Homo sapiens: one gene and its partners. The protein of the gene in region 2 interacts with the protein of the main gene of each other region in a pairwise test. Each region holds a gene or a part of one and is shown on either strand. Other genes may lie near its edges.

Region 1 (3,655 bases), on a different chromosome or scaffold from region 2:
TAGCCACCCAATAACCACTGTATCATATCACCTGTAATAATTCTCCATAAAACACCTTCTACTATCTGATTATTTTGTTTGCTGACTTATTGTTTCTCCTGCACTAGAATCTAAACTCCTTGAGAGCAAGCTGTCTAGCTGTCTGCTGCCCTATACACAGCTACATCTCCAGTGTCTAGAACAGTGTCTAGCACATTTTGACATCTATTTAGGATCCATACATATTTCTGACTTTAATTTCTTTTAAGAGACAGGGTCTTGCTCTGTCACCCAGTCTGGAGTGCTACTGCATGATCATGGCTCACTGTAGCCTCGAATTCCTGGGCTTAAGCGATCCTCCCACCTCAGCCTCCCCAGTAGCTGGGACTACAGGAATGCACCACCATGTGCAGTTAATTTTTAAAAATTTTTGTAGAGATGAAGTCTACCTATGTTGCCCAGGCTGGTCTTGAACTCCTGGCCTGAAGTGATCCTCTTACCTTGGCCTCCCAAAGTGCTGGGATTACAGATTAATTAGCCTGGCTAAAAGTTTTAATAGTGCAATTTTAAAGAGAAAATTAGAAGCAATTTATTTATCAGATAATAGAATAAACTTATGTTTTAGTCACTAGAAATTATAAATATGACAGTGGAAATATAAGAAAATACATATAAAATAATGTTAAGTTTAAAAAGGAGAACCTGGTGGGGCACAATGGTCCATGTCTGCAATCCCAATGTTTTGGGAGGCTGAGGCAGGTGGATTGCTTGAGGCTGGGAGTCTGAGGTTTCAGTGAGCTATAATCACACCACTGCACTCAAGCCTGAGAGAGTGAGATGCTGTCTCTAAAAAAATAAAATTTAATTAAAAAAAACAAGCTACTACCCCAAAAAAGTAGAGCCCAAACATTTACTTTATATGTCACATAAATATATGAATAACATGATTAAAACTCATGTATACCACTTTGGGAGGCCGAGGCAGGCAGATCACGAGGTCAAGAGATCGAGACCATCCTGGCCAACATGGTGAAACCCTGTCTCTATTAAAAATACAAAAATTAGCTGGGCGTGGTGGCACCCACCTGTAGTCCCAGCTACTCAGGAGACTGAGGCAGGAGAATTGCTTGAACTCGGCAGGCAGACGTTGCAGTGAGCCAAGATTGCGCCACTGCACTCCAACCTGGCGACAGAGCGAGACTCTGTCTGAAAAAAACAAACAAAAAAACCCCTCACGTATACACATAATGTATATGTGTGTATACACCATTTATTTAAGAGACAGGGTCTTAGTCTGTAACCCAGGCTAGTGTGCAGTGGTACAATCACAGCTCACTGTAACCTCAAATTCCTGGGTCAAGCAATCCTCCCATTTCAGCTTCCCAAGCAGCTGGGACTACAAGTATGTACCACCATGCTTGACTAATTTTTTAAAATTTTTGTAGAGACAGGGTCTCACTATGTTGCCCAAGCTGGTCCTAAACTGCTGGACTCAAAAGTGATCCACCCACCTTAGCCTCCCACAGGGCTGGGTATTTATTTGAGTAACATCAAAGTTGGTTCTCACTATGTGGTTTCAGGTATATATACCACCCATGACACATGTCAGAAGCTAGAGATTAGAGGGAGATGAGAGTTTACAAAAGGAAGGAAAAAAAGTTTAAAGAAAACAGGGCAGGACATTGTTTGCCTGAGGGAGAAGCACTAGCGTCTAACCACAGGTCTGTAAAAGGAACAATATGACAGGCAGGGTGGAGTAAAGGGTGGTGTATGTAATCAAGGAGAACCATTCCACAAGTGCCATCCCGGCAAGTCAGCAGATAATGAGAACCTCCAAACTAAAGACTGGCAAGAACTAAACATGGATGGCAAATCCAATGTGAAGGAATGAAAAAATCTGCCGATCTTTTAAGACCCAGGAAGAAAGTAATTCATCAGAGACCTGACAGTGGAATTAGGGAAAAAAGCCTCTCCAAACACACTCTAAAAGTGGCAAGCACTTCTACCCTGAGAGAACAGAGCAGAAAAGACATAAGCAGCAAGCTTTCAATAAACGCCTGCGAAAGAACGTTAAAATCCCATCCCACTGAGGTTGCACTTTACTCTTTGATCTTCTTCAGCTTTATCCTGTAATTCTTTTTTTTTTTTTCTTTTTTTGAGATGGAGTCTTGCTCTGTTGCCCAGGCTGGAGTGCACTGGTGCGATCTGGGCTCACTGCAAGCTCCTCTTACCGGTTCACGCCATTCTCCTGCCTCAGCCTCCCGGGTAGCTGGTACTACAGGTGCCTGCCACCACGCCCGGCTATTTTTTTTTTTTGTATTTTTAGTAGAGGCGGGGTTTCACCGTGTTAGCCAGGATGGTCACGATCTCCTGACCTTGTGATCCGCCCGCCTCGGCCTCCCAAAGTGCTGGGACTACAGGCGTGAGCCACCGGCCTATCCTGTAATTCTTATGCTGTCTCAATAAATGTTCATCGTATTTCCTAAACTAGACTACAGATTCTGCTAGGAAAACAATCTTGTCTTTATTTTCTTCCTCATCCTTTTTGTGAACCTTTGAGTGCTAATCTAGAAAGTAATAAATGGTAATTTTCTAAAAATAGAGTGCTTTCTAGGATCAACAGGTAAATATACTACTATGAAAACAAACACACAAAAAAAGAGAAACTCATAAGTATTTACCTGTGTGTTCACTACTTCTTGAGATAACGTTTGATTGAGTGGTGGATACATTTCAAGTTTTATATTTAAAATTCCCACAGAAACTTTTGATTCTGTGCCTATAAACATAAATATTTTGAACTTCAGAGATTTCAATACTATATATATTTAGTCAACCAAAGTCTAACCAAAATAATTTAGGCACTTGGGTGTTTTATCACTTACATGGAATAAAGATAACATTCAACATTACCTTTAATATTCATATTAAAATGAACCAAATCAATTTTTTTAAACAAAGGTGTTTAATTATAAGGAGATTATTTTCTTAGCTTTCTGACACTCTTTTTCTTCTTTAAGTAGAGATGGGGTCTCCCTATGTTATTCAGGTTGGTCTTAAACTCCAGGGCTCAAGTGATATTCCTGCCTCAGCCTTCCAAAGTGCTTGGTGGGATTACAGGCATGAGCCACTACACCTGGCTTTTCTAACAGGTTTTAAGAAACTTTTCTGACTTAAAGGATTTGAGACTCTTAATTTTTGTCTTAATTAAATGTATAATATCAACCAGACTTACATTAAATTCAAAGTCAAAGCAACTGTTAACACCTCATTCCTTCTCCACACACACACACACACACACACACACACACACTAAAAATTAGAAAGCATTTATATTGTCACTTATAGTAACTCCCATTTGTCACTCCCCATTATCCAATTACAGGCTGAGTAGAAATTTTCAATCCATGCCTGGATTTAAAGAACTAGAAAACAAATATACTTCACATCAAAACGATTTAATGTTTCTTCAGTGAATCAGAATCTGCTTGTTTCCAGGTCACTGCTACGATTATCATGTTAGGCCTATTTTTGAAGACAAATTGGGTATTGTTTTTGAAAATAAATTTCTTACATAAAGGACACTTTTTCTATAATTTTTATTTAAAGAAAAATACATTCTTGGTATGACTTATTAAAATCTAAATTACTGGCTGGGCGCGGTGACTCACGCCAA
Region 2 (3,332 bases):
CTGTGCTCCGCAACTGGGGCTTCCAGCAGGAATGAGCACGTGAAAATGAAAATGATAGGATATCAGGAAGATTATTTATAGAGCTTCTCTGAGAGAGTAAGAACAGCATGGTGGAGACTGGGTTTTCATTTCTATGGGGATAACTTACTACAAGGGCTCCCTATCCCTGCAGAAAACTTGGGTTGATTCTGTAAAGGGAATTCTCCTTCCCTCCAATTCTCATAATGTTCATTAAATGAAAATTCCTAGAAGTAAGGATCTGAGTCCTTCTGGGCCAGGGATCCAGAGTACAGACGATGTGCACATCTGCCCAGGCCCAGCCACTCCACGTCATGACTCTGGGAACTCCAACCACTGCTCCTCAACAGGCAGCACCGAAGACACAGCTCCAACCAACACAAACTACTACGGCATGGCATTGTGCCTTTTTGTCGAGGTCACCTTTCAAAGAATTGCTCTTTCTGACCTGGTGCTCCTCTTACCCTCACAGCTCGGCAGGAATCAGGAGGTAGGAATGCTATTACCAACAGGGATTTTCATGGATGGATAAAAAGGTCATGATGCAAATCCTCCAAAAAACTGGGCTCAAAACCCAAGCATCTTGTCCTCTAGGCCAGCATGAGAGGTCTGAAGTGTCACTGCCTCTAGCTAAAAGAGGGAAGGTCAGACAACCCTGTCCTCCTAAGGCCAATAATGGGAACTCTCACCAATGCATAAAGAGACACATTAAAAACGTATCTCAAAAGGCAGCCTGGATTGCAGTCTTTTGCAATCAAGAACCTGGGAGTCTAATGTTCTAGGGATGTCCTTTTAGTGGACCATAGGGGGAATTTAATTCCCCTACTTCTAGAACCCTCCATCTATCCCCAAAATATAAAGCCCTCTGGACACCAAATACTGACATAAACGTAATATTTGTGTAACAGGAAAGAAAGCAAATGCCTCAGCCAGTGAAAGTTAGCCAAAGCTTTAGAATTTCCCAATTATTAAAATACCTGATTTGTAGTACAGGATAGCTCTGATGTCTGGGAGGCAAACTGAGGCAAACTAAGGCCTGGAGCTTACCAGCTGATGAAAGGAAGAGCTCTCCTAGCTACCTAGAGAGGCATCCCTGAGAAAGCAGCCCTGCGGGGCTCAGATTCACACAGTGCTGGTCATAGTGCCATGGCACCTCAGTCCTGCCAGGACGGCACACTTTCCACCAACAGCTGCCCTCAGAGATTCATGCAGAGATAAAGGGAGTTTGAGGCAAGGCCTCTAATCTCCTAATGCTTGGTGCCTGCCTGCTGACAGTGGCCCTCGCTTCTCCTGGAGGCCAGGGTATCAAGAAGGCCTTGGTCCTAGTCTAACCAGAAGCCAAATGGATATGTACCTTGAAGCTATAACCTTGATCTACCAAGAATCTCTGCCGCTTGGTTGAGTAAGCCATTTCCTGTGTGTCCTGGGATACCAGTGAGTAGAAAAAGGCATTGTACTCTTCTGCAACCATCCCTGCAGGAAAAAATGAGAAACGGCAATAAAGAAGACAACATTAGCCATTAGAATGCCAAGAGCTAAGGGTCCCAGGCTCAAAAGCAAGCACTGGAGTGGAAAAGCCCTGCACTCGGGGTTACCACCTGAACTTGGCATGGGATTGCATCAAAATTTGGAAGTCTTTTGTGCTTCCAAGGACACCATCAAGTGAAAAAACAATCCTCAGAATAAAAAAATGTGGAAAGCATATATCTGATAAGGGATTTGTATCTAGGTTATACAAAGAACTGTTGAAACTCAACAACAAGACAAATTAATTATAAATGAGAGAAGAATATGAACAGATTACTTCTCCAAAAACAATATAAAAATAGCCAGTAAGCACATGAAATGATGCTCCACACCATTAATCACCAGGGAAATGCAACTCAAAAGCACAATGAGATTATCACCTCACGCCCCTCTCCGAGGATGGCTACAATCAAAAAAGCAGATAACTGCCACTGTTGTCAAGGATGTGGAAAAACTAGAACCCGCATGCATTGCTGTTGAGAATGTAAATGATGCGGCTGCTTTGGAAAACAGTCTGGCAGTTCATCAAAATGTTAAACACACTGTTATAACCACATGACCTGGCAATTCCACTTCCAGGCATAAATCCAAGAGAAATGAAACTATATCCACACAAAAATTTGTACATGAATTTCATAGCAGAATTCTTCTAAGAGCCAAAAAGTGGAAACAGCCCAAATGTCCATCAACAGATGTGTGGATAAATAAAATGTGGTATGTCCATGGAATCGAATATTATTTAGCAATAAAAAAGAATGAAGTACTGACAGATGCTACAATATAGATAATCTTTTTGAAAACATTATGCTGCCGGGTGTGGTGACCCAGTCCTGTAATCCCAGCCCTTTGGGAGGCTGAGGTGGGCGTGGATCACTCAAGGTCAGGAGTTTGAGACCAGCCTGGCCAACATGGTGAAACTCCATCTCTACTAAAAATAGAAAAATTAGCCAGGCGTGGTGGCTCATGCCTGTAATTCCAGCTACGCGGGAGGCTGAGGCAGGAGAATCCCTTGAACCTGCGAGGCAGTGGTTGCAGTGAGCCAAGATCGCCCCACTGTACTCCAGCCTGGGCGATAGAGCGAGATTCCATCTCCAAAAAACAAACAAACAAAACATTATGCTAAGTGAAAAGAAACCAGTCACAGAAGGCCCCAAGTGGTCTGACTGCATTTACATGAAATGTCCAGAAAAGGCCTACAGACATCAAAGTAGATTAGGGGCTGCCTAGAGCTGGGGGTTGGGAACAAGAGGAAATTAGGAGTGGCTGTGCATGGATGAGGGTTTCTTTTGGGAGCTGATGAGAATATTCTAAACATGAATTGTGTTGATAGTTGCACAACTTTGTGAATATTGTATTTCCTAGGTTTTCTTCGAGGATCCTTATAGTTTGAGGTCTTACATTTACATCTTTAATCCATTATGAGTTGATTTTTGTATGTGGTGATAGGCAGGGGTCTGGTTTCATCCTTCTGCATACAGTTAGCCAGTTTCCCCAGCACCATTTATTGAATAGGGAGTACTTTCCCCACTGCATATTTTTGCCAATTTTGTTGAACATCAGTTGGCTGCAGGTACATGGCATTATTTCTGAGCTCTCTATTCTGCTCCATTGGTCTATGTGCCTGTTCTGTACCAGTACCATGCTGTTTTGGTTACTGTAAGCCCTGTAGCATAGTTTGAAGTTGGATACTGTGAGGCCTTTGGCTTTGTTCCTTTTGCTTAGGATTGCTTTGGCTATTCAGGTGCTTTTGTGGTTCCAGATGAATTTTATAAGTTTTTTTTCTAATT
Region 3 (3,655 bases), on a different chromosome or scaffold from region 2:
CAGATATGATCACATCTATGTCTCAGAAAGGTTTCTCTGGCTAGGGGGTAGAGGAAAGGATTGTTTAATCTCTTTCTTCTTAAAAAGTACCCTCTTGGGCATAATAAAAACTATAGGCTCAAACATGGAATGCATCAGAGATAAGAAGATAAAGCACTTACCCTTAAGAAGCTTGGTCTAATGGGCAGGGCAGAAACCAGTCCCAAAATAGTGTAAAAAGCAAAATGCTCAGCCAGGCCTGGTGGCTCACGCCTGTAATCCCAGCACTTTGGGAGGCTGAGGCGGGCAGATCATTTGAGGTCAGGAGTTCAAGACTAGCCTGGCCAACATGGTGAAACCCCATCTCTACTAAAAATACACACAAAAAAAATTAGCTGGGTGTGGTGGCGCATGCCTGTAATCCCAGCTACTCGGGAGGCTGAGGCAGCAGAATCGCTTGAACCTGAGAGATAGAGGTTGCAGTGAGCTGAGATTGTGTGCCACTGCACTCCAGCCTGGGCGACAGAGCGAGACCCTGTCTCAAGAAAAACAAAACAAAACAAAATAAAACAAAACAAAACTCTACCAGCACCAGGAGTAGATAAGAAGGAGCTCCTAACTCTGCTGTGGGTGCGGGAGAAAACTTGAAAGAAGTGACTTCTGAGCTGAACCTTGAAACATGAGTTCACAAAGTAGATTCAGGGAGTTGGGGGTAGAGTGGGGAATGGGACTAGGTATACAGATAGAGAAAACGTACTCAAGGCAGAGGAAAAAATACAAGTAAAGAAACGGCACTATAAGCTGATTTATATTATAAGAAAGCATCAACACCAAAAAAAGTCAGAATGAAGTGTGTATTTCATGCCAAAAAAATCAAAAGGAGAACAAGTAATTTCCACATTACTTTTAGATGTAATGCTACAACGAGTTAAAAACAAACAAACAGGCTGGGCGCGGTGGCTCACGCCTATAATCCCAGCTCTCAGGGAGGCAGAGGCGGGAGGATAGCTTGAGCCCAGGAGTTCGAGACCTGCCTGAGCAATATAGTGAGACCCCGTTCTCCACAAAAAGGAAGAAACAAACAAACAAACAAAGCAACAACAATACTGACACCTAGAGTAGTCAAATTTATAGAGACAAAAAGTAAAATGGTAGTTGCCAGGGGTTGGGAAGAGAGGGAATGGGGAGTTGTTTAATGAACATGTTTTTATTATTATTATTATTTTTTAAAGATAGGGTCTTGCTCTGTATCCCAGGCTGGAGAGCAGTGGTGCAATCACAGCTCATTGCAGCCTTGAGCTCCTGGTCTCAAGCAATCCTCCTGCCTCAGCCTCCCAAGCAGCTGGAACTACAGGCGTGTGCCACCACGCCTGGCTGTTTAATGGATGTAGAGTTTCGGTTTTGCAAGATGAAGAGTTCTGGAGGTTGACTGTGCAACAATGTAAATGTACTTAACACTACGGAACCATACACTAAAAATGGTTAAGATGGTAAACTGTATGTGTATTTTATCACAATTTTTTAAAATCTAAAAAAAACAAAAAACAAAACAAAAAAAAAAACTGAAACAAACCCCAAAACACTGGACCAGAAGTCAGGAAATCTGAATTCTATTCCCAACTATCGGCGTGATCCTAGGCAACAGCCCATCTGTACTTCAGGTTCCCAATTAAGGTCATAAAAGTTATAAAATGGGCTGGGTGCAGTGGTTCATGCCTGTAATCCCAGCACTTTATGAGGCCGAGGCGGGCAGATCACCTGAGGTTGGAAGTTGGAGACCGGCCTGACCAACATGGAGAAACCCCGTCTCTACTAAAAATACAAAATTAACAGGGTGTGGTGGCACATGCCTATAATCCCAGCTACTCAGGAGGCTGAGGCAGGAGAATTGCTTGAACCCGGGAGGTGGAGGTTGCAGTGAGCCAAGATTGCACCATTGCATTCCAGCCTGGGCAACAAAAGTGAAACTCCGTCTCCAAAAAAAAAAAAAAAAAAAAAAAATTATAAAATAATCTTTAAGGTTCCTTTGGTTCTGATTGTTTGTGATACCATATCATCTCATTTTTTTCTATATTATTTCATCCTTGTATAAAGCCACTAACTTGAGATGGTGATATTCTGGGCATAGATCTTTTCCCCTCAGACCAGTAGTTTACCACTGGCAATTACTTCCCTCTTGGCTTAAAGGTAACTACTGGATTCTACATACTTCTCTACAGCGCCTTTCCCCTTCTCCTCCCCACAAAGCCCTCTTCTAGGTCAGAAGGTTACTGGCACATGAGCAATAAAGGCTAGATAACTTTTGATGTTATTTGCTAATATTTGTAATTATTTAAAACCTCTTCTAGAATAAACTGATGTTATTCATTTTACTATTAGAGCAGATTCATATGGAAAGACAGATAAGAAATGAATATGGGTTATTTGATTTTTATATTATATACAGTAATATATATACACATAAAGATTAAAATAAGTACTTTAGTACATATACTAAATAAAGGGCTTTATCTTACACTACATAATTTTTTCAAAGAAAGAAAAAAAGATACTGATTCGGTACTATTTTTACAAGACCTTTTACTAGGGCATTCTCTGTTACACAGCCATTGGCAAAAAAGTTTAGCACTAAATCTAGGATTTCTCAGTAAGTGACAATGTTATATTTTCTCTAATAACCCTCACCTGCTTCACTTCAGTTAGCCCCATCCTTATTTTATATAAAATTAAAAGATTCTTAGTGCCAGTCTTTCCTCATCAGCTTTTGGGAAGACAAATAGGCAGCAGTCCCAGCATGAGTAGAGAGCCTGTATCAATTACTTGCCTCTCAATTTAGTGAGACTGAGGAGAGTTCAAATGAATTCCAACCCTTAGGCTCTCCTTCCCACACCATCCTAGTTTGTAGTCTCAGTGATAATATGAGCGCCCATTGACTCCTGTTAGATAGAGAAAAGACACTCTCCCTAATGCACAGTCTCTTGATCTCTTCCTATTACAACCTGCTAAACCCTTCTGCTGCAGATACATTAAGGTTTGAAAACTAACAATTTATGGCCAAACAATTAAGCGCGTGTTTAAGATGCAGGAAAAAAATGACACAATTGCTTGTGTTTCTGTTATAGTAGAAAAATTCCAGCCCGGCCAACTTGGCGAAACCCTGTCTCTACTGAAAATACAAAAAATTAGCCGGGCGTGGTGGCACATGCCTGTAATTCCAGCTACTCGGGAGGGTGAGGCAGGAGAATCGCTTGAGCTGGGGAGGCGGAGGTTGCAGTGAGCCAAGATCGTGCCATTGCACTCCAGCCTGGGCGACAGAGTGAGACTCCGTCTTAAAACAAATAAAAAATTAAAAAAAGAAAGAAAGATGACAATTAAAGGGTTTATTTTACCACCACCAAGATAAGTGGAGCTTGTGTAAGTTTTAAATAAATGCATCTATAAGGAAAAAATTGGAAGCTTTCCATTGATTCTTACATCAATGAATATAATTTTAAATATCATTAATGTTCATACTGTTTCATAACTTATACGATTATCTGAATAGTGTTTCAAAAGCACTTGAAATATCTTAAAGATCAAAAGGATCTTAAATGCGTCAAAAATAAGTAAACGTTTAAGTTTTTTTAGCAGTAGGAGAATTCTCATCTTTTTGGAGGGAGGATGGTCAAGAGCTTAG

Evidence for each region.
Region 1: the proteins of ERCC3 (region 2) and CEP76 interact in binary tests that used the Homo sapiens proteins (3 or more experiments, as listed by UniProt).
Region 3: the proteins of ERCC3 (region 2) and XIAP interact in binary tests that used the Homo sapiens proteins (3 or more experiments, as listed by UniProt).

The regions. Positions count from the first base shown.
Region 1 is NC_000018.10:12,692,594-12,696,248, forward strand, and holds part of CEP76 (centrosomal protein of 76 kDa), read right to left. Parts: intron 2,759-3,655; coding exon 2,661-2,758; intron 1-2,660. UniProt on the Homo sapiens protein: Centrosomal protein involved in regulation of centriole duplication. Required to limit centriole duplication to once per cell cycle by preventing centriole reduplication.
Region 2 is NC_000002.12:127,259,856-127,263,187, forward strand, and holds part of ERCC3 (general transcription and DNA repair factor IIH helicase/translocase subunit XPB), read right to left. Parts: intron 1,492-3,332; coding exon 1,373-1,491; intron 1-1,372. UniProt on the Homo sapiens protein: ATP-dependent 3'-5' DNA helicase/translocase. Binds dsDNA rather than ssDNA, unzipping it in a translocase rather than classical helicase activity. Component of the general transcription and DNA repair factor IIH (TFIIH) core complex.
Region 3 is NC_000023.11:123,901,506-123,905,160, reverse strand, and holds part of XIAP (E3 ubiquitin-protein ligase XIAP), read right to left. Parts: intron 1-3,655.